Homo sapiens: one gene and its partners. The protein of the gene in region 1 interacts with the protein of each later gene in a pairwise test. Each region holds a gene or a part of one and is shown on either strand. Other genes may lie near its edges.

The links.
Region 2: the proteins of CCDC172 (region 1) and SH2D4A interact in binary tests that used the Homo sapiens proteins (3 or more experiments, as listed by UniProt).
Region 3: the proteins of CCDC172 (region 1) and TEAD4 interact in binary tests that used the Homo sapiens proteins (3 or more experiments, as listed by UniProt).

Annotation. Positions count from the first base shown.
Region 1 is NC_000010.11:116,375,932-116,380,912, reverse strand, and holds the end of CCDC172 (coiled-coil domain-containing protein 172), read right to left. Parts: intron 2,491-4,981; coding exon 2,403-2,490; intron 1,591-2,402; coding exon 1,555-1,590; 3' UTR 884-1,554; downstream 1-883.
Region 2 is NC_000008.11:19,330,186-19,338,084, reverse strand, and holds part of SH2D4A (SH2 domain-containing protein 4A), read right to left. Parts: intron 5,131-7,899; coding exon 4,971-5,130; intron 3,400-4,970; coding exon 3,228-3,399; intron 1-3,227. UniProt on the Homo sapiens protein: Inhibits estrogen-induced cell proliferation by competing with PLCG for binding to ESR1, blocking the effect of estrogen on PLCG and repressing estrogen-induced proliferation. May play a role in T-cell development and function.
Region 3 is NC_000012.12:3,031,526-3,039,424, forward strand, and holds part of TEAD4 (transcriptional enhancer factor TEF-3), read left to right. Parts: intron 1-6,442; coding exon 6,443-6,583; intron 6,584-7,899. UniProt on the Homo sapiens protein: Transcription factor which plays a key role in the Hippo signaling pathway, a pathway involved in organ size control and tumor suppression by restricting proliferation and promoting apoptosis.

The DNA of each region.
Region 1 (4,981 bases):
TGTGTCACTCTTATGCCTTTGCATCCTCATAGCTTAGCTTCCACTTACGAATGAGAGCATACAATGTTTGGTTTTCCATTCCTGAGTTACTTCACTTAGGATACTATTCTCCAATCTCATCCAGGTCACTGTGAATGGCATTAATTCATTCCTTTTTAGGCTGAGTAGTATTCCATCGTATATATATTTCACAGTTTCTTTATGCACTCGTTGACTGATGGGCATTTGGGCTGGTTCCACATTTTTGCAACTGCGAATTGTGCTGCTATAAACATTCATGTGCAAGTATCTTTTTCATATAATGACTTCAGGAGTAGCTATTCTTATATCAGTCAATACACTTTCAGACAATAGACTTTCTGTCTAGTCAGAAATGGTAACGGCAGAAAGATAAGTGATATTGGAAATTTGGTAGCAATACTAAGTATGATCCGATCCTAACTACACTGTTTTCAGTTGCAGTAGTTCAGGTCACCAGAGAAAATGAATCCTGATGGCTGTTAAGGAGATTATGTACCTCATAATCCACTGGGGATTCATATCCCCGTGGATAATTTGTTTCATTATAACCAACACTGGCATTAACCAGAAAATGGCTTCAGGTGCCCCAGACTTCATGGAAACACAGTGAAAAGTAGGAAAACTTTTACAGATGAAGGTCCTCAGAGGAACTCTGTCAACAGACATTTTATGATTAGAGAATAATTAAAATGAAAGCAAGCACCTTTGTTAGTGGAAGTGGCACCAACAAAACTGGGCCAATAAACTGAATGTTTCTTCCTATGTGTGTTTCATTGGACCCAAGGTAAACTACAACAAAAAATGAAAAGTATAGTGTATCAGTCCATTCTCGCATTGCTATGAAGAAATACATGAGACTGGGTAATTTACAAAGAACACAAGTTTAATTGTCCCACGGTTCTGCAGGCTGTACAGGAAGCATAGTGACTTCTGCTTCTAGGGAGGCCTCAGGAAGTTTCCAATCATGACTGAAGGCAAAGGGGGAGTGAGACATCTCATACGGTGGCAGCAGGAGCAAAGTGGAGAAGTGCTATACACTAGTAAACAACTAGCTCTCAGGAGAACTCAAGGACAGTACCAAGAAGAATGGTGCTAAGCTATTCATGAGAAACCCACCCCCATGACCCAATCACCTCCTATCAGGACCCACCTCCAACAGTGGGGATCACAATTCAACATGAGATTTGGGCATGGACACAGATCCAAACCATATTATATAGATTAGAAAGAATAGGACAGCTTGAGGTTCAGGGGCATATAAGAAGCCTGGGAACACGGTATCTACTTCTTCTCCTTTTCCTTCTTTTAGAAACAAAATCAAACCACAGAAGAACTCTTAAAGTTTGAGTAACAAGACAAAAATTATCTTAAAGGGCTAACACATCATTTCTAGATAATAACAATTTGAATATTTTAAACCCCATATTTCCCACAAGGATCCGTTGTAACGGGTACCATTCATATATCTATCACAAAGATTTGATTCTCAGATATTCTGATCAAATCTCAGATGGCTGATCAATTCTCTGTAAGTTATTTGCTTTCCTGAAGATCTTTCTGTGCCAATGTCTGAAAAGAAAACATAGTAATTACTCATGAGGAAAAGTAAATTCTTAATAAAATAATTACATAAAATGTACCTAAATTTAATGACAATAAATTCTGGGCATTTCTTAATTATATTTTTTATAAAAAAAAATAAATTCAAAGGTAACTTATTGAAACATTTTTTGAACAAGAAAATGTTTACCTAAAATATGTAACAACATGCAATGTATCAAATTAAAACTACATTTTAAGATAGTTTAAAGCTATTCATGTCTTTCACTAAAATGTAGTATGGCAAATACTGTGTTCATTTTATAAACAACCAAAGTAAGAGGTTAAAGCAATTTAAAGTGCTCCTACACAATCTGAAAATACATTTCCAACAATTGAATTCAAGGTTTTTGAGATTATACAAATACGCAATAAGAAAGTTTTAGGATCAAATATAATAAAAGTATAATTTATGCCTATCAAAAACAAAAAGCTTTTAAGGCATTATGATAGTTAAATTTCCTTCAGTGCAGTAATCCTCTAATAACAGTTTCAGTCAAGGAAATGTTATGAGGTCAGATCTAAAGTTGCTTTTTTTTAACTTACTTTGAAATCATACATATTCTCTTTGAATATAATTTGCTTCATGTAGCACCTAACTCTCTAGGAACTCAAAACACTTCATAGATTTACATCCTGATCCTAGTTATCTTCATTATTGCTTTTCTGTTTTTTGCAGAGGGATTAAACACTAGTTCAGTGATTTGTACACCAGTAAAACCGTTCCTTACCAGTAGGTAAAATAATGCTGAACAAAAGTTAAACAATCAATGATAACTTACCAACTCCAAAAATTCTATTTCTGTTTGGAGAGCTTCATAAACACTTTCCATGTCATCTTCCTTATAAAGTTCTAATTCTTTTTTAAGTCTATTTTAAAAGAAAATTTCACCTGTTAGTTTAATAATAAACTGTAATTGTATTACTGCACAGAGAGGGACAAGTTTGTAGCTTCTATAATCAGAATTTCAAGTTAAGACTAAATAATTGGCATATTTTAATTATCTATAATTCCATAAAGACTATATAAAATTTTGCGGTAAAACTTTTCATAAAGAAATTAAGGTAGACTGACTAGTAGACATTTAATATTTTTGTTGTTGTTGTTTTTTGAGATGGAGTCTCGCTCTGTCATCCAGGCTGGAGTACAGTGGTGTGATCTCGGCTCACTGCAACCTCTGCTTCCTGGGTTCAAGCGATTCTCCTGCCTCAGCCTCCCAAGTAGCTGGGATTACAGGCGGCTGCCACCACACTCAGCTAATTTTTGTGTTTTTAGTAGAGATGGGGTTTCGCCATGTTGGCTAGGCTGGTCTTAAACTCCTGACATCAAGTGATTCACCTGCCTGAACCTCCCAAAGTGCTGGGATTACAGGTGTTAGCCACCACGCCCAGCTGACATTTAATAATTTTATCATAACTAAAAGAGCAACATGAGCTGGTGGATAAAAAATATATAGTACTATGTCTTAACATCTCTGTTTTAGTCCTGGCCACCAGCAAACTGAATAAGCTTAGTTAAAACATTTAGCTTCTCTGAACCTCACCTGAAAACTTTTAAGTATAGAAAAAAAAATGACCCTTGAGCTCTCTTCTTGATCTAAAAGTAAACTATAACTTTATAATATACACACATAATTAAAATATATCTTAATTTGGGAGTGAGAAAGCAACATCTTTCTTTTCCCCAATTAAGTTTCTTTTCCCCAATTAAGTCTTTAAGTTTTTGAATATTTTGAATTTTTTAACATGAAAAAGCACATACATTTTATTAACGTGCATTGGGAATCACAAAAAAATAGGTTGGTTAGAACTGAAGCGGTTACATTCAGGTTTATTACCCTCTTAATGAAGGAAAGGGGGTTTGGAGTTGTTAAAGTTTATGAGAGACTGTCATTTGAAATGATCAAACCAAAATAGAGTTTCTGGAGCTAGGTGCCATGTAATCTATCTTGAAAATGGGCCAGTTTCCCAAAAAATAGGAGATTCATAGCAACCAATCAAAGGGGCCTTGAACCAACATAAGGCAGTCTCCTCTGAATTATGACTATAAGAAATTAATTTTGAAATGATTCTAGAAAAATCCAATTAAATGTTTATACTGATTTTTTTATTATACTTTAAGTTTTAGGGTACATGTGCACAACGTGCAGGTTTGTTACATATGTATACATGTGCCATGTTGGTGTGCTGCACCCAATAACTCATCTTTTAACATTAGGTATATCTCCTAATGCTATCCCTCCCCTCTCCCCCTACCCCATACTGAATTTTTTTGTATTTTCGGTTTTTCTTTTTTATGAGACTTTAAGGAACTAGACTATATGGAAGTATATGGGTGTAGTAATGGAAGATAAGGGCTATTTTCATTAAAATCTATTTATGCATACTCATCTTGGTATTGGCTCTGTCTTCAATGATAACAGTACCTCCTCTCTCCCTGGAATTAGTGTGTCACCCTTCTCATGCCTTACTTTTAAGCAGATAAAGCCTAAAAGGGTAGAGAATTCTTCCTGTAACTATTGAGTATCAATTGCCAAGATAATCCTTAAGACAATGTGGTATAATTTCAGGGTGGTATATTCTGGTCCCTTTAAAGCAAGGTCAGATAGGCAATAGAAAGAATAACCTTAAACAAAGAGCCAACAATTGTACTAATATCATACAAGTTTGATGATTATAAATGTGCTCTGGAAATTTATTGCCAAATCAGCACAGACTTTGAGGAATTTTTTAAAAATTATTTTATACCTGTATTTAATGTGGAAAATAGTAAAAGTAAGTTTTCCATTTCTGGCATTATGACTAACATTTTTTTCTGAAAAGAAAAACATAAACAAAAGCTAGGAGCTGTGGCTGAAGAGGTAGAAGGCTAGAGCCTGGAATTGGGCAGCTAGGAGGTTAAAGCTGCCCTGAGGGGAGATATGAGGAACAACATTGCTCTCCCAAACCTAAGCAACTCCTGGGCCAGCAACAAAGTGAGAAGTGTAGATCAATTTGAACTTTTGTTGAGCCCTGACCCTCAAGGGAAGCTGAAGGAGTTGTAAGATCAGTGGCATTTCCTGGATGCCAGCAGATGCAAAAGAAAATCTTCTCTATGGCTGCATAGTATTCCATGGTGTATATGTGCCACATTTTCTTTATCCAAATGCCCATCATTGATGGACACTGTGGATGGTTCCAAGTCTTTGCTATTGTGAACAGTGCTACAATAAACATATGTGTGCATGTGTCTTTAGAGCAGAATGATTTATAATCCTTTGGGTATATACCCAGTAATGGGATTGCTGAGTCAAATGGTATTTCTAGTTCTAGATCTTTAAGGAATCGCCATACTGTCTTCCACAATGGTTGAACTAATTTA
Region 2 (7,899 bases), on another chromosome or scaffold:
TTGGTGACTTAAAACAACAGATATTTACTCTCTCACAGTTCTGGAGACTAGAGTCAGAAATCAAGGCTGTGCAGGGCTATGCCCCCTCTTCCAGCTTCCGGTGGCTCCCATCTTGTGGCAGCATAACTCTGCTTTCTGCCTCTTTCTTCACTCGGCCTTCTTCTCAGTGTTTCTGTCTGATATGGTTTGGCTGTGTCCCCACCCAAATCTCATCTTGAATTGTAACTCCCACAATTCCCATGTGTTGTGGGAGGAACCTGGTGGGAGGCAGTTAAATCATGGGGGTGGGTCTTTCCCATGGTGTTCTTGTGATAGTGAGTGGGTCTCATGAGATCTGATGGTTTTATAAATGGGAATTTCCCTGCGCAAGCTCTCTTGTCTGCTGCCATGTTAGACGTGCCTTTCACCTTCCACAGTGATTGTGAGGCCTCCCCAGCTACATGGAACTGTAAGTCCATTAAACCTCTTTGTTTTGTAAACTGCCCAATCTTGGGTATGTCTTTATCAGCAGCATGAAAACAGACTAGTACACTCTCTCTCACATTTTCCTTGGCTCTCCTCTTATAAGGACACTTGTCTTGGGATTTAGGATCCACCCTAAATCCAGGGTGATCTCATCTTGAGATCCTTTACTTTAATTACATCTGCAAAGATCTATTTCCAAATAAGCTCACATTCTGAGGTTCTAGGTGGACATAAATTTCGGGGGATAAATATTCAGACCACTATAGTGACATATACACAACTTACAATAAAAATATAAATGTACCATCGAGTCAGTTGTCTGAGAGGTAGCAGACGACCTCTTTAAAGGCTCACACTAGCTGTGAAATCAGGCTCCTCGCTGTGTGGCCTGCTGTCAGAGTGAACTTCAGCAAATACCACAGGAGCCCCTGACAGCATCTTCTCTGACACAGGGAAAGATAAAAAGCAGGAATATAAAAACCTGTCACCCATCTATTTCCATATTCCTTCTATCTGAATATTTCTTTCTCCCCTGCCCCCATCTCTTTCCATATGTCAGTTTAGCAGGCACCTAAGGAAGGCAACAGTGCCACTCTCAATATAATATTTATGAGATGGTTAAAGAATAATAACTGTGGTATCTATTTTAATTTCCATTTTAATCTTTTGTCCTACTTTTGAAAAAAAAAGGTCTAAAAAAGTACTGTAATTCAAGCACAAATATAAGCATACATACTTAATACTTTTTTTTAAGACTTAGGGTCTCACTTGGTCCCCCAGGCTACAGTACAGTGGTGTAATCAGGACTCACTGCAGCCTCAAATTCCTGGGCTCAATCGATCCTCCTGCCTCAGCCTCCTGAGTTGCTAGGACTACAGGCATGCACCACCATGCTTGGCTGTTTTTTTTTAATTTTTTGTAGAGATGGGGGTCTCACTGTCTCTGCAGGATTATGCCCAGGCTTGTCTGGAACTCCTGGCCTCAAAAGGGATCCTCCTGCCTCGGCCTCCAAAAGCACTGAGATTACAAGTGTGAGCAAACACACTCAGCTGCATAATTAATACTCTGGAAGGAGCTTTCTTGTTATTACTGTTGTTCTTGGTTGGAGGGGTGTGGGAAGGGGAGCCGTGTTGGGGGAGTTTAGTGTTACACATGCTGAGTGCAAAGCACACCTGGGGAGGACGGGAGGCCTCAATGAGGATGTGGGGAGCATGTCCAGGGCTGACCTTGAGATGAAAAACCAAATTTAGAATTTTCTCTTCCTAAATATTTTGAGCCTCATATTTGTAGCCCTTCATAAAAAGCTTCTTCATAGCCCTCATATTAATGACACAACCAAACATGAGAGTTAAGAATTAAGGAGTTAGTAGTTAATATTTAAGGAATAGCCTGGGGGTCCTGCAGACCTGGGTTTGAATAAGACCTTGGGCAGGTTGCTTAACCACACCTAGCCTCAGTTTCCCCAGCTGTAAAATGGACAAATGTCTCTAGTTCATGTTATTGTGAGGATTACATGAGACACTCAGCAGTGTGCTTTGCTGTGGAATAACCCCTGACCATGTTAGTTATCAGAGTCTCACTAGGTCCTAGGAGGAGGCAGGAGATACCTGTATTCCCATATGATAGCCTCAAAGAAGTCAAAAGCACACACAGCCAGTGCTGCAGGGCTGGAGACATAAATGGAAATCAAACAACTGCAAATCCCTGTTAATTCTCAGTGTAATTAAATTCCTGGTAGAATAATAAGGTGTTTCATTGTTCTCCCAAACTATAATCCAACCAGCAAATTATGTTTGAGTTTTTTAAACCATCTGAACCATAAGAGAATTCATACCAATTCTGAGTATAAAATTTCTATTATGTTGGGGAGGTAACTGTCCCCAAGTCACAGGCAGAGCCAATGAAGCCCAACAGGCACTGATGTTTAGAATCCGCAACAAAAAGGCTAAGACTCAGTAGAATGTAATCTAAATCATGAACAGGCCAAATCTGCCCCTCAGCCTGTGCTTGAAAATAAAGTTTTATTGGAACACAGCCATGCTCATTCATTTGTGTATAGCTGTGACAAAGATGGCATGGCCCATAAAGCCTAAACCATTTACTATGTTGCACTTTACAGAAAATGTTTGCCAACCTCTGCTGTAACAGAAGACATATAATGGGGCAGCATTGAGGAGAACCTGAAAATATCTTAAAATGCCAAATTGCATTCCTAGCGTTCTTGTTACTTTCAGTCTCATGAAATAGGGGTGCTTTATTTTCCATGATGTAGCATGGAAGGTAAATCCCCCAAGTGACATGAGCAAGAGGATCTTTTTTTTTTTGAGATGGAGTCTCGCTCTGTCGCCCAGGCTGGAGTGCTGGAGTGCAGTGTCGCAATCTCGGCTCACTGCAAGCTCCACCTCCCAGGTTCACGCCGTTCTCCTGCCTCAGCCTCCCGAGTAGCTGGGACTGCAGGCGCCCGCCACCACGCCCAGCTAATTTTTTTTTTTGTATTTTTAGTAGACACGGGGTTTCACCGTGTTAGCCAGGATGGTCTCGATCTCCTGACCTCGTGATCCGCCCGCCTTGGCCTCCCAAAGTGCTGGGATTACAGGCATGAGCCACCGTGCCTGCCCTGGAGGATCTTAAAGTTAGGAGGCATTTCTCCCAAGAAAGCCACTGGAGGATCCTGACACTCAGCCACAGTAGTCTCTGTGGCCTCAATAGCTTTTTCTCCCCCATGATGAAATTCCGCACGTCTACAGACAGTAAGGACTCACTCGGATTTTCTCTTCTTCCAGGGTTGGTGCTGGCCTCGATCCTTGCTCCAGTTCCTCCTTTTCTGCCACTTTCTTCCAGATGTCTTTAGTCTGCTGGTTATCCGGAGCCTGCAGATCATGGTACTGTGATTTTGTTTTCAAGCTATTGGTGAATTCTTCAGAGTGAGTTTTTCTGAAGAGAGGCAAAAGTGAAATTCTCAAAAAACATTCTTCAACAGGAAGAGCCTTTCCAAAGCATATGTCGACATTCAAATTATGTGAAAAACAGTAACTGACACCACTTACTGAGTGCTTCTAACATGCTGGGCCCTTTGCTAGGTGTGTAAAGACGTTAACTTCATCCTCATCACAACCCTGTGAGGAAGGCATTGTCATCCTCACTTTGTTATAAGAGCTCCAAGAAATTTTGTAATTCATCCAAGACCACATAGTGGTACAGCCAAGATCTGAACCCTGGTCTGCTCAACTCCTGGTTTAGAAGTTAACCTATTAGAACCACACCGTCTGCTTCCAATCGATGATTAAATAATTCCTTTATCTTCATATGTCCATGGATAGTTTTAAAGTTACAGGCACTAGTGGGCAGCATCCCAGCCCTTGAAAGTCCAATGCACCATCCACTGTGCCACAGAGTCTGCTTTGCATCCCTAGCCCTTGGGAACTGAACGGTGGTCCTCATGTCTGTCCCAATTTCCACTTCACCACCTCAGGGTAAGGCTGTCAACATCACTGCCCAGAGCCAGAGGAGGACACCCAGAGCACCCCAGGTACCCAGCAGAGGAGCGCCATCACCTGCCTCAGTTTCCCTCCGAGTTACCTTCCTACATCTGCAGTTGATGTCACTTCCCTATTGAAAAACCTCACCGTCCAGAGAATAAGTTCCAAACTCCTAAATCTGGCCTCTGAAGCAGTTGTCCAAGTGTATTCCAAATGCTCAGAAGACCTCATCATTCCCCAAAGAACCATCCGTAGTCAAGTCTAGGGATCTTGGTTAAGCCCTCTGCCTGCACTTTCCTTCCTGGCCTTCTGTAGCTGGAAAACCACTCCTTTCAAGGTTTGGTTCAGATTTCACCTCGTCTGTGGATCAGAATGATAGGTTCCCACCTATGCTTGGTAAACTTTCTGTTTGTACCTTAATTATAGCACAAATCACAGCCTGCACTGGCCGCAGTGAGCTGTGCATATGTCTACTTCTCCTCCTAGACTGGAAGCTCCCTGTTTCTCTTTGAATTCCCAGTACCTTGCACTGGGTAGGCACCTAAAGAGCCTGATTATCCAGCCGCCTGTATCTAAGTGATCTCCTTGGAAGGCCTGAAGCTTGCACAGTCACTGCATTTCTCACATATGTTCCTGATACTCAGCTGCGTCGGCCTGCATTGCTCTAACATGACTCTAGTGCAGCCACGGGTGATCACTGGGGAACTCATACACTCATACAGATCAAAACTGGAATGACAAGCAGGGAGATGAAGCAGCTGATTTGACAGCACTAAAGATTTTCATGAGGTCTTTAGTGCTATCAAAGACTTTAGATCAAAAGTCTAAATCAACCTTCTAAAGAGATCCAAAAGGTCTTTAGACCAAAAGTCTAAATCAACCTTCCAAAGAGATCCAAAGTGACTTTTGTGACCCTCCAACCCAACCCTACTCTCCCACCTGATACTGTGAGCAAGAGGTGTGTTTGCAATGTTTTCTAAAGTCTGGAGAGTCTTTAAGTCTCTGGTTGGTTTGCAGATCTCATACCTGGGCTCTTCTGCCTCCTGTTCTGCTTTCAGCCGGGCCCTCTCAGCAATAATTTCATTACAGAGCACATCATAGGGTTTATCTAGATGGTGTTCGCCCATCACCCATACCCAGACTTCCTTATCAGCTCCAAGTTTCCAATGAACCGATTTGCCATTCTCTGCAAACAAACACACAAACAAAAAATTCAGATTGAACAAATATCTTTAGTCACAGATTACTGTTTCCATCACTAAAGTATTTTGGGTCTTTGAAAATATATATATATATATCAGATGAGACAAAGAACTTCCAACTGCTCAGGAACATCTGTAGGTAGCAATGGCAGTGGTGGCAGTGAGAGGCAGCTTCAGTGAAAATATTTGTTTTAAAAATATTAGGGGTATGTTTTTTGCCCGTGCTTTTTTTTTTTTTTTTTTTTTTGACAGTCTCACACTGTTGCCCAGGCTGGAGTGCAGTGGCATGATCTTGGCTCACTGCAACCTCCGCCTCTGGGTTCAAGCCGTTCCCCACCTCAGCCTCCCAAGTAGCTGGGATTACAGGCACCTGCCACCATGCCCAGCTAATTTTTGTATTTTTAGTAGAGACAGGGTTTCACCATTACAGGCATCTGCCACCACGACCAGCTAATTTTTGTATTTTTAGTAGAGACAGGATTTCACCATCTTGGCCAGGCTGGTCTTGAACTCCTGACCTCGTGATCCACCCACCTCAGCCTGCCAAAGTGCTGGGATTACAGGTGTGAGTCACTGCGCCTGGCTGCATGTGCCTATTTTATAAATGAAGAAACTGAAATGGGAAGCAAGCATTCATTGTTTGCATTATCCTTTAGGGTAACAGAGCTAGCACTTCACACCATAAATTCTTACATCTAACTATCTCCCTGTAACCCAGAATTCCACAGCTGCTCAAGGGTGTGGCATTTGTACTACATTCACAGGCTTCATAGGTGGGTAAAAAGCAGGTTTTATTATTTTATTTATATTGTATTTTATTTGTATTTATTATTTTATTTTAGAAATGGTGTCTTGCTCTGTCACTCAGGCTGGAGTGCAGTGGTGAGCTCATAGTAGTTAGGAATGCAGGCATGCATTACCATGCCCAGCTAATTTTTAAAATTTTTTGTAGAGACAGGGCTTTGCTTTGTTGCCCAGGCTGGTCTCAAACTTCTGGCTTCAAGCAATCCTCTTGCCTCAGATAAGGAGGTATTTTAGATTTAGACCACCTTGAGTTCAAATCCTAGCCCTGTCACTTACGAGCTATGTGACTTGGACAACTTTCTTAAACTCTTTAGACTCAATTTCCTCATCTGCAAAATGGGAATACCAATATTTACTACCTAGGGTTGCTGTGGGCAGGCAGGCTACCTGTGCCAAGTTCTTCCCCTAGTGCCTGCCACATAACAGGAGTTCAATAGAGGTTAACTGCTATCATTGCTAGCCTATTATTTACTTATATGGCTGCCTCAGAGATTCACACCAGCCTGTGAGAAGATAATATAACCAGGTAGTATGATACTTGGTGAAGCTACTTAAATAACCCTTGTTTACAATTGGCCTCCAGGTTAGATTATATCCTAGTGCTCCTGAAATGCGGCCACATCGGTCATGCTCCCTTAAACCGGGGGCAGGTGGAGCGTACCTAGGAGAGGCCAACAGAGACCATCCCTGAGTCTGTCAGGCCTACCCAGGGCAACTGTGGGCCAAAGGTGGACCTCTAGTCAAGACCCCAAACTAGCAGTGGTGCTGACTGCATGGAAGAGGGCACCTGGCTGGTGTGTGTGCTGGGCCCTGTTTGATGAGCAAAACATCCACACTGGGATTGTGTCTTGTCCTCTCACACTAAGTCAAAGGAGGTTTCCAATTAAGGTGTCTTCTGTCCAACGTATTCTTGACTTTTGTACTGTGGCCTTGGGATACATTACCAAAGCAGGCTGCTCAAAGCCAGGCTCGTGCTTTCTTTTGACCCTTTCTACCCTTCTTGGTACAGTGGACACTCCTGCAGTATGTTCTAAACAGAGACGCTGGGCAGAGGGAACAGACTCAGACTCTGCACTACCAAAGAATTCCCATTTACTGTTTTCACTGTGGAGAAACAGCAAATGTGGCCTCCAGGTAAGGAGGGGAAGGTCAATCCCACCATGCCCAAATGGGGCTGGGCACCAGTGCCAGCTCCTGGCAAGCTCTTTGTCTGTTTGACATAATGCCAGATGGTTTGTTAACTTTAGAAAGCTGTCATACCTCATAAAACTCCCTTTATTACACTCTCTCAGGCCAACTAATAATATTTTTTTTATGTCAGCCTCTCAGCCTTCACCTAAGTAGTTCTCTGTCGGTATTTTTTTTTTGACAGCAAGAGGAAGATGCCCAGAAAGATGGCAAGTGGCACTGTGCCAGGGGAAGAAAAAGGAAGAGCAGAGGGATTCCAGCACCTCAGCTAGGACAGCCCAGAACAGCTCCAGAACAGCCTCCAGGGGCTACGGGCAGGGCAGGAACTCTTAGGGAAAAGGGGCATTGCTGCAGGTGGGGAGAGAAATCCTAGGACTGCATGTGAGCAGTTGGGGCTTCAAAGCTAAACACAGAGAAGAGAGCAAAGGAGAGGAGCAGAGTCAAGAAAGCTTTAAAGGAGGTAACAGAGAGAACACAGTGACCATAAAGAAGCAGTGGCTCTTGGCAAGAAGAAAGAGAATGAGATGGGAAATGTCAGAGTTAGTGAGATGCTGAAAAACGGGCTCTTGACAGAGTGGCACTGACAATGGTCTCTCTGCTGACTTTTCACCTCTAAGAGCTCTTCAATGAGCTCAGAGAGTGGGGATACTGGAGGAGCTTCAAGTGGTTCCATGAACTCCCTGAAGCTGTAGGAGGAGGGGGAAGTTGTTCTAGTATAATGAGTGTTAGCTGGGATACCCTCGGCTTCACATCAGATGAGG
Region 3 (7,899 bases), on another chromosome or scaffold:
TAGGGGAAACTGAGGCATGGAGTAAGCAGGGCCTGGCCCTGAGTCCCCCAGCCAGGGTGACCTCTGTCCTGTGGGCACTCCTGTTGGATACATGCTGTGAGATAGATGGGCCCAGATAGACTGAGAGAGATGACAGCTGCACTCTTCTCACCACGTTACATACAGTCACACGTCTCATCCTCACCACAGCCAAGACTGGATAACCTCATCTGCAGAGGGGAAACTGAGGTACAGACAGGTAGAATCACCTGCCAAAGGTTGCCCAGTTCATAGTACCAGACCCATACCAGACCACGGGTCCATACCTGAGCAGCCTGACCCCAGGGTGTGTGCTTGGAGCCACCATACTAAACAGTCCTCCTTGCGAAGTCACTGGCTGCCCTCCATGCAGCATCCTGGAGCTTCTCCTGCTCCCACTGGAGAAGGCTCTGAATTGTCTAAAACAGATCCCCAGCCCCCTGAGGAACAGCAGGCAGTGGCAGCGTGGGGAGAGCAGACTTAGCTCTGTGCAGTCAATGTAGAGCCAGCCCCTTGGGCTTCTTGGGCGTTCTCGACCTCAGATATCCCTTCCAGAAAATAGGGCAGTGGCCCTGCGTGGAGACTAAGGTTGCCAGGAAGGAAGGAGGACCTAGAAGGTACTTTTCCAAACTTGGTAGTGGCCTGTGTCCTCTCTTTCTTTCTGACTCTTAGGGGAGTTTGGAGGTGGGGGTTGATGGGAGAAGAGAGGGTTGGGACAGCTGGTGCCAAAGACATGGGATTCAGCAGGTTCCCTTGTGGACCGTGTGCTCCAGCCGTGTGCTGTACGGACCCAGCGCGGCCCTCGGCTTCCAGGAGCTCGCACTCTGGATGGGAGGATCCAGCGCGAGTCTCGGGGTCCTGGGACAGGAGCCGCTGGACAGGGGGCTGTGGTGTGCCCCCCAGCAAGGCCCTTCTGATGTGTCATGGCAGGGCACGGTGGGCAGCAGTTGGCCCCAGCTGGGGCAGAGTCTCAGTTCTACCACTTGAGAACTGTGTCCTGGGCAAATATTGGCTTCTCTGTGCCTCTGCTTCTTTGTGTGAATAGTCAGCAGTTTGATCTTGGGGACCTGCCAGGGGCTGTGTCGCTGAAGACCCCGTGTATGTGGCCGGCTGGTACTGAGTGGGGGGCTGTGGCCTGCCCTTGCCCCACCCCTTGCCTGAGCCCTCTGAGTGCCAGCGGCCTGGGCAGGTGAAATCAGAGATGAGGGAGCGCCGGAGGCCAGGGCACCTTGGCGGTCATCTGCTCCCTCCTCCGCATGTGTGGGGCGGGCAGAGGCACCAGAGGAAGACACATATGTGACGGGGAAAGGTACATATTCGTGTTTGCTGACAATGAGACTTTGCGTCAATCGTGGGTCCTCACAGGCTGCCCCGGCTCCCCCCGCATCGGGAAGCTCCTGTCTTCTGCTCCCTGGCCTGGTCCCGCCTTCCCCCTCCATCAGCTGGTGTGAACTTGGCCACACACAGTTAGGAAGGAAAACTGCTCAGGCAAGGAAACGGTGTCGCCTCTCCCGGAGCCTTTCTTTTCCTGCCTGGCTGTTTTCTCAGTCCTGGCTCCCAGGCCCTGAATGTGTGTGCTGGAGAGGCAATCAGAACCCCCTTGGAGTGGGAGGAGGACTTGTCCGTCTCCAGTCCAGCCTCCCTGCCTGTCCCCTGAGTTACTGCTCTTACTGAGGGCGCTGTGGTGGTCATTCATAGACTCTCGGACTGCTGGGACACATTTCCAGCTAGAAGTGGCATCTGCCAGCCTGAAGGGCTGAGGCTGCTAGGGCTGTGCACAGCCTCAGCCCTATCTGCTGAGCGCCACGGGGCCTGGAGCGAGGGACTGATGCGATGAAGCTCCCTTCCTCCCCCAGAGCCCCGCAAGTCCAGCAGAGGCCACCTGTCTCTGGGGCCGGTGAGAGGGGGCCTTTGGTGGCCATTAACGCCGCTCTGCACATTGGAAATGCCAGGCAGAGCCGGGCTGCACCGTGGAGGCAGCAGAGTACCCCAGGCCTTCCTCCCATCTCAGCCTGCTCTTCCCTTTCAGTCCCTGACATTTCTCCCAGGCACATACCAGCACATGACAATGAATCTGAGCCCCTCCAGGCCCCCACACCCGGGCTGCGGCTGTCTCTGCTCATCTGTCAGTCACCCGATCCCCCACACCTGTTCCAGGCACAGCTGCCCACCCGCACGCACAGCTATGAATAGGGCGGAGGGAGGGTTGCAAGGGGGCACTCACAGGGCAGGGGACCGGGGCAGCTCTCATTTTTTCTTAGGCCAAGAAGCGTAGCTTGTTTTGGGTGGTTGCTCAGTGTGGGGGGATATGAGGGTGGACAGGAAATGTCAGGAAGGAGTATAGCTGCAGGAGAAGGGGTGAGGCTGTAATTAGAAGGATCCAGGCACTGAGGACGAGTCGAGGTGCTCTGGGGCGGTTCGTCCGTGTCGCCGGCTGGTGTGTTCCGGGTTTATGCAGTGTGAACATGAGTTCTGGGGCTGATTGTGGGATCTCTCTTTCTCCCCCTGACCCATTGCTCAACCCTAGCACTTGCATTCTATTTGTTCTCCCGATTATAAATTCCCTGAGAGCAGAAACAATGTCTCAACCTCTCTGGGCCCCCCTGCCTCTAGCACTGCTGGCCTGGGCTGGACAAATGGGCACCTGAGCGATGGGAAGAGCCAGGGAGTGGGAGCTGATGACAGAAGAGTGTATCTGAGATGGGGGTGGAGCTGGGGCGCAGAACTCTCAGGGTGAGCAGGACAGGGTAGGTTCCTGCTTGCGCCTGAGGGACCTTGCTCTTCCCACTGGTGCCACCCGGAGGTGAGAGGGTGAACAGCCGCCTGCAACCTTGATTGAAGGCCCACCCTACTAAGGCCCTGGGAGAGCTTAGTTCTTGCCTCCAGGGAGCATCGTATCTGGAAGGGGGCAAGGACATCTGGACAGATTATGACAAGCAGGGTAATAGAGGGGGATCTGCCAATTGCTCCTGGGGGCTGGGGGCAGCCGCTGCCTCTGTGTGTCTGGAAGAGCTGGGAGGTGTGGATGCCAGTCCTTCCCAGCTTGGCACACTGGATTCTTCTAAGATGGCACGTGAATATGCATTTTTTTAAATAGTTAAGTAGTTGCCCAGGCTCAGTGGCTCATTCTTGTAATCCCCCCACTTTGGGAAGCTGAGGCAGGAGGATCACTTGAGCCCAGGAGTTCGAGACCAGCCTGGGCAACATGGCGAAGCCCTATCCCTGTGTTTTAAAATAACTTTATTTGAAAATATGGAAAATAGTTATAGGCCAGACGCGGTGGCTCACGCCTATAATCCCAACACTTTGGGAGGCCGAGGCAGGTGGATCACTTGAGGCCAGGAGTTCGTGACCAGCCTGGCCGATATGGTGAAACCCCACCTCTACTAAAAAAAAAAAATACAAAAACTAGCCGAGCGTGGTGGTGGGCACCTGTAATCTCAGCTACTCAGGAGGCTGAGGCAGAAGAATCACTTGAACCCGGCAGGCGAAGGTTGCAGTGAGCTGAGATTGCACCACCACACTCCAGCCCAGGCGACAGAGCGAGATTCCGTCTCAAAAAATAAAATTAAAAAAATAGTTATATAGTTATTTTCATATATATTAGAAAGAATAGAATCCTTGATTTCATGGATTTATTGCTTAGAATGGAATTAAGGAATAAAAGTGAGTTGATTTCAAAGAATCAGGATGTGTCGTAGATGGCACATGAATGTGGCATTGATCAGAGGGACCATGCGCGGTTAAAATCTGAGGGTCACCACCATTGATGCCTGGCCTCACCTCTTGGTGTTCCCCACCATGTCCAGTGCATCCTTCCCAGGCAGCTGGGCTTCCTGCCAGCGGCATTTCAGGCATTGTTCACATTTTTGCCCTGTGCTTCCAGCTACAGAATATGTCCTGAGCACACAAACTGTCCCCCAGGCCCTTTTTAGGAACAGTCTGACAAAGTCAGTCTCCTAGGAGGAGCAGGTGACTTCGAGAAAATAGGAGACAGGCCAGGTGCAGTGGTTCACACCTGCAATCCCAACACTTTGGGAGGCCAAGGTGAGAGGATCACTTGAGGTCAAGAGTTTGAGACCAGCCTAGGAAACAGCGAGACCCTGCCTCTACAAAAAATTTAAAAATTAGCCAGGTGTGGTGGCACATGCCTATAATCCTGGCTACTCAGGAGGCTGAGGTGGGAAGACTGCTTGAATCCAGGAGTTCGAGGCTGCAGTGAGCCGTGATCATACCACTGTACTCCAGCCTGAGTGACAGAACAAGATTCTGTCTTTAACAAAAAAAAAAAAAAAGAAGAAGAAGAAGAAAACAGGAGCCCGAAAGCCTGGGTTCTGGTCCCATTCACCTTATATTTGCCTGTAAGACCTTCGGCCAGTCACAGCCACAGTTAAATCTAGTCCGGCAGAGGCCTCAGCCACCTCTGCCATGCCATCCTGGGCACCCTGCCTACAATGTGTCATCCCCTCCCTCCCAGCATCACAGATGGAGACAGAGTGGGGAGACTGAGGCCAGCTCAGGGGTGGTAGTGGAGGGTGTTTAGGATAAATGCTGCTGTCTGTTTCAGAGGCTGAGCATTGACACGAATGCTTTTTTTCCCTAAAGGCCTCATCAAAGCCGAGGCAGGTGCACTGAACCATATGCCATTCTGTTTCAGCATGAAAACAGCCTTTTTTTCCTCATCATAAACGTAATCCACCCTCATTCTGCTCCGTAGCCTGCTTTCCCACTCAGTGTGTTTGTAGTCATCCATGATAATAAATGCAGGTCCTTCTCAGCGTTTTTTTGTGGCTACATAATGTTTCTATTGTGCTATAGACAATCAACACCCACCGCCAGTCTAGAGAAAGGTCCTGCTCTGGGAAAACTTCTCCAAAGGAGAGAAAAATAACGATTGAGTGTCCCCTCATGGCCAGTAGTAGAATTGCTTGGTGCCTGGCTCTGAATCTGACCAAAACCTTCCTGGGGTTCTAGGGATCCCCTTATCTTTGCACAGAAGAGTCCTTGGTGTCAGAACCTTGACCAAGGCCTGACGCTTTACTGCATTCGTAGGGCTGCGCTCTGGGCACAGCTTGCAGTGATTTCAGACCGGGGTGTGGGTGGGAGGAGCGGCCTCCCCTGAGAATAAGCCTTTGTAATGTGCCTGTGCGTTGTTTCTGAGTCTTGACTTGTTCTCTTAGCACCCCTGGCTCAGATGGGGTGATTTGATGTGGGGCTGGAGTTCTGGGCATGGGGACCCCTAAGGCGTAGGGCTTCAGGAATACAATTCCTGCCTCAGAGTCCCCAAAGCACCAAATTGTCTCATCTGGTGCCTTCCTTTCTTCGCTGTGGCACTCTGCTGGTTTGGGACAAGTATTGGGGTTGGAGGCTGAAGACCTGGGGTCTTTCACTTACTAGTTGGATGGTGTTGGGCAAGGCTAACAGTCAGGACCCCTCATGGATAAAACCGAGGCCGTGGTTTTGGGTGTGAGATCAGCACAGAGTCTTACTCCGCCTTTTCTAGAAGGGAAGTTTCAGATCAGCCCCACATCCAGCAGGAGGCCCCCTGGGCTCTGTTTTCATCAGGGGAAGGAAGAGCAGCCTGTCTGAGGCAAGGTGAGAAGCTGACCTAGAGGACCAGTGTCTGGGCCTGTGAAGGGCCTTGTGAGCCAGGCCGGGGACCAAGACTCCTGTCCCTTGTGGCTAAATGGCTCAATGAGACGGTGAAGTGACTTGACTTCTGAAGAGATTCCCGGGGCAGTTAAGAGAATGAACCAAAGGGAGGGACAGCTGGTGCTGGGGAGATTGCTCTGGAGGCTGAAGCAGAGATGTCAAAAGATCCAAGGTGACGGGACCCAGCAGTGCCTAGAGGGGGAAGAGGCCAGCCCCAGAGCCGTTTCTGAGGGAGCATCGATCAGGTCTCTGGCGAGACAAGAGGATGAGACAGGAGCAGCATTCACCCCTTCCACCCTCCCCACTGCCGGTCTCTTGCCCTGGTTTTCTGTTCTCATGCTTCCTGCACTATCAAAATTGACTCTGGAATAATTCTGATAGACGCATTCAAACTAAAATAGAGCTGACTGGTAGAGATTCAAACCTTTGCAGTTTAACAAGAACAAAGTCTTAGACTATGAAACTTGAAATCTTAAAGATGGAATCTGGGGCTCCCACCTGCTGGGTGTGTTAATATCTGGGCAGGCAGCAGTGGCCTGAAACTGTGTGGGTCCCAGTGTCCTCTTTTCCCATGATTTAGGCAACACGACCTGATTTTGTACCAGGCAGAGATGTAGAGGAATGTGGAAGCTTTCTGGCGTCCTACTGTCTACCCTCAGTCTGATTTCTTCCCAGCCCTAGAGCCGGGACCGGGACCCTGAGGTCTCCTTGATGCTCCCGTCTGACATGGCACCTGCTGACACTCCCTCGCCTTCCCACTGTCTCCCTCCAGGCAGACCTCAACACCAACATCGAGGATGAAGGCAGCTCCTTCTATGGGGTCTCCAGCCAGTATGAGAGCCCCGAGAACATGATCATCACCTGCTCCACGAAGGTCTGCTCTTTCGGCAAGCAGGTGGTGGAGAAAGTTGAGGTAGGAGGCCACCCTGGCGGGTGAGGGCCGGTGGCAGTGGTCTGTGTTTGCTGGGCATGGCTTCCATTTGCTTTCAGGAGGAATGCCCTCCGTTAGGGAGCCAGGATAATCCCTTGTTGCCTTCCCTGTCTGCTGTCAGTGCTGTGTGCCTCCCACACTCCCCTTGGCACCAGTGTCCTGCCCAGCTAACCAGAGCCATTGCTGCCCTTTCAGGATCTTCCAAGCACGTCCTTGCAGGCACCCCCGGTCCTCTCCAAGAGCAGAGCCGCAGCACAGGCAGAGCCCTGGGCATCTACCTAGTCCAGCCCTCTGGCTTCACAGTGGAGGCCCAGAGAGAGCGGAGGCCTCCCACCAATCGCCCGCACATGGTCACACAGCTCATTAGTGCAGAAGCAGGGCTAAGATCTCTGTCCCCTGCTCACTTTGAACTCCATGAATGCCTAAAACTGTTCCTTCCCTGATTTTCTGCTTATGGGTACCCTGGAGACCCTGCTCTAATGGAAGTTACAGAAAATTCAGGCCTGCCTTTTATGGTTTCTCCCACTCTGCTAAACCCCCGGCCAAGGGCAGTGCAGGGCAGTGGTGAGGAGCATAAGCGCAGGTGAATCCCCACCCAGGCACCCTGCTTTCCGGTGCGTGTCTGGGGGGTTGTGATAAAATCCTCTGTATTTTGGCCCTAAACAAGGGCCAAGTTATCTTCACTGTCCGTGACACGGTCTCCTGCAGCACCCTGTGTTCTGGGCCCGCTGCGTAGTGGCAGTGACAAGGAGCTGGGACTGAAGGCCTCCAACCCAAAGCACCTGTGGACTCTGAGAGTCCGGGGCCCTGTGCCGCCCACACACTTGTTAAACCTCCTCACCGTGCAGGCCAGTCTTCGTCCCTCTCCTCACCCCTTCCCCAGATTGGTCTGAATTAATGAAGTCCTACTCTCACAGTCTGTCAGTTATTGATAGCCTTCCTCATGCCAAATGCAGCCAGATGCCCGGCCAGCACCAGGGAGGAGACATTACTCCACACAGTGCTTCTCCGCCTGGCTGCACCTTGCAGTCTCCTGGGAGCTTTGGAAACACACCAGTGCCTGAAACCCATTCATCACCCCTCAGTCTCTAGGGTAGAGTCCAGGCATTAGTGGTTTTTAAAAAGTTCCTCAAATTATTTATTTCTAATTAAACTTGTAAAACTTTTGAGATAATGGTGGATCCACTTGGGCTCATAATCCCATGTGCGCTTTACCCAGCTCTTGCCCTGGCCATATCTTGCATAACTAGAGTGTAAAGTGGACAACCAGGAAATTGACGTTGATGCAGTCCACCAAG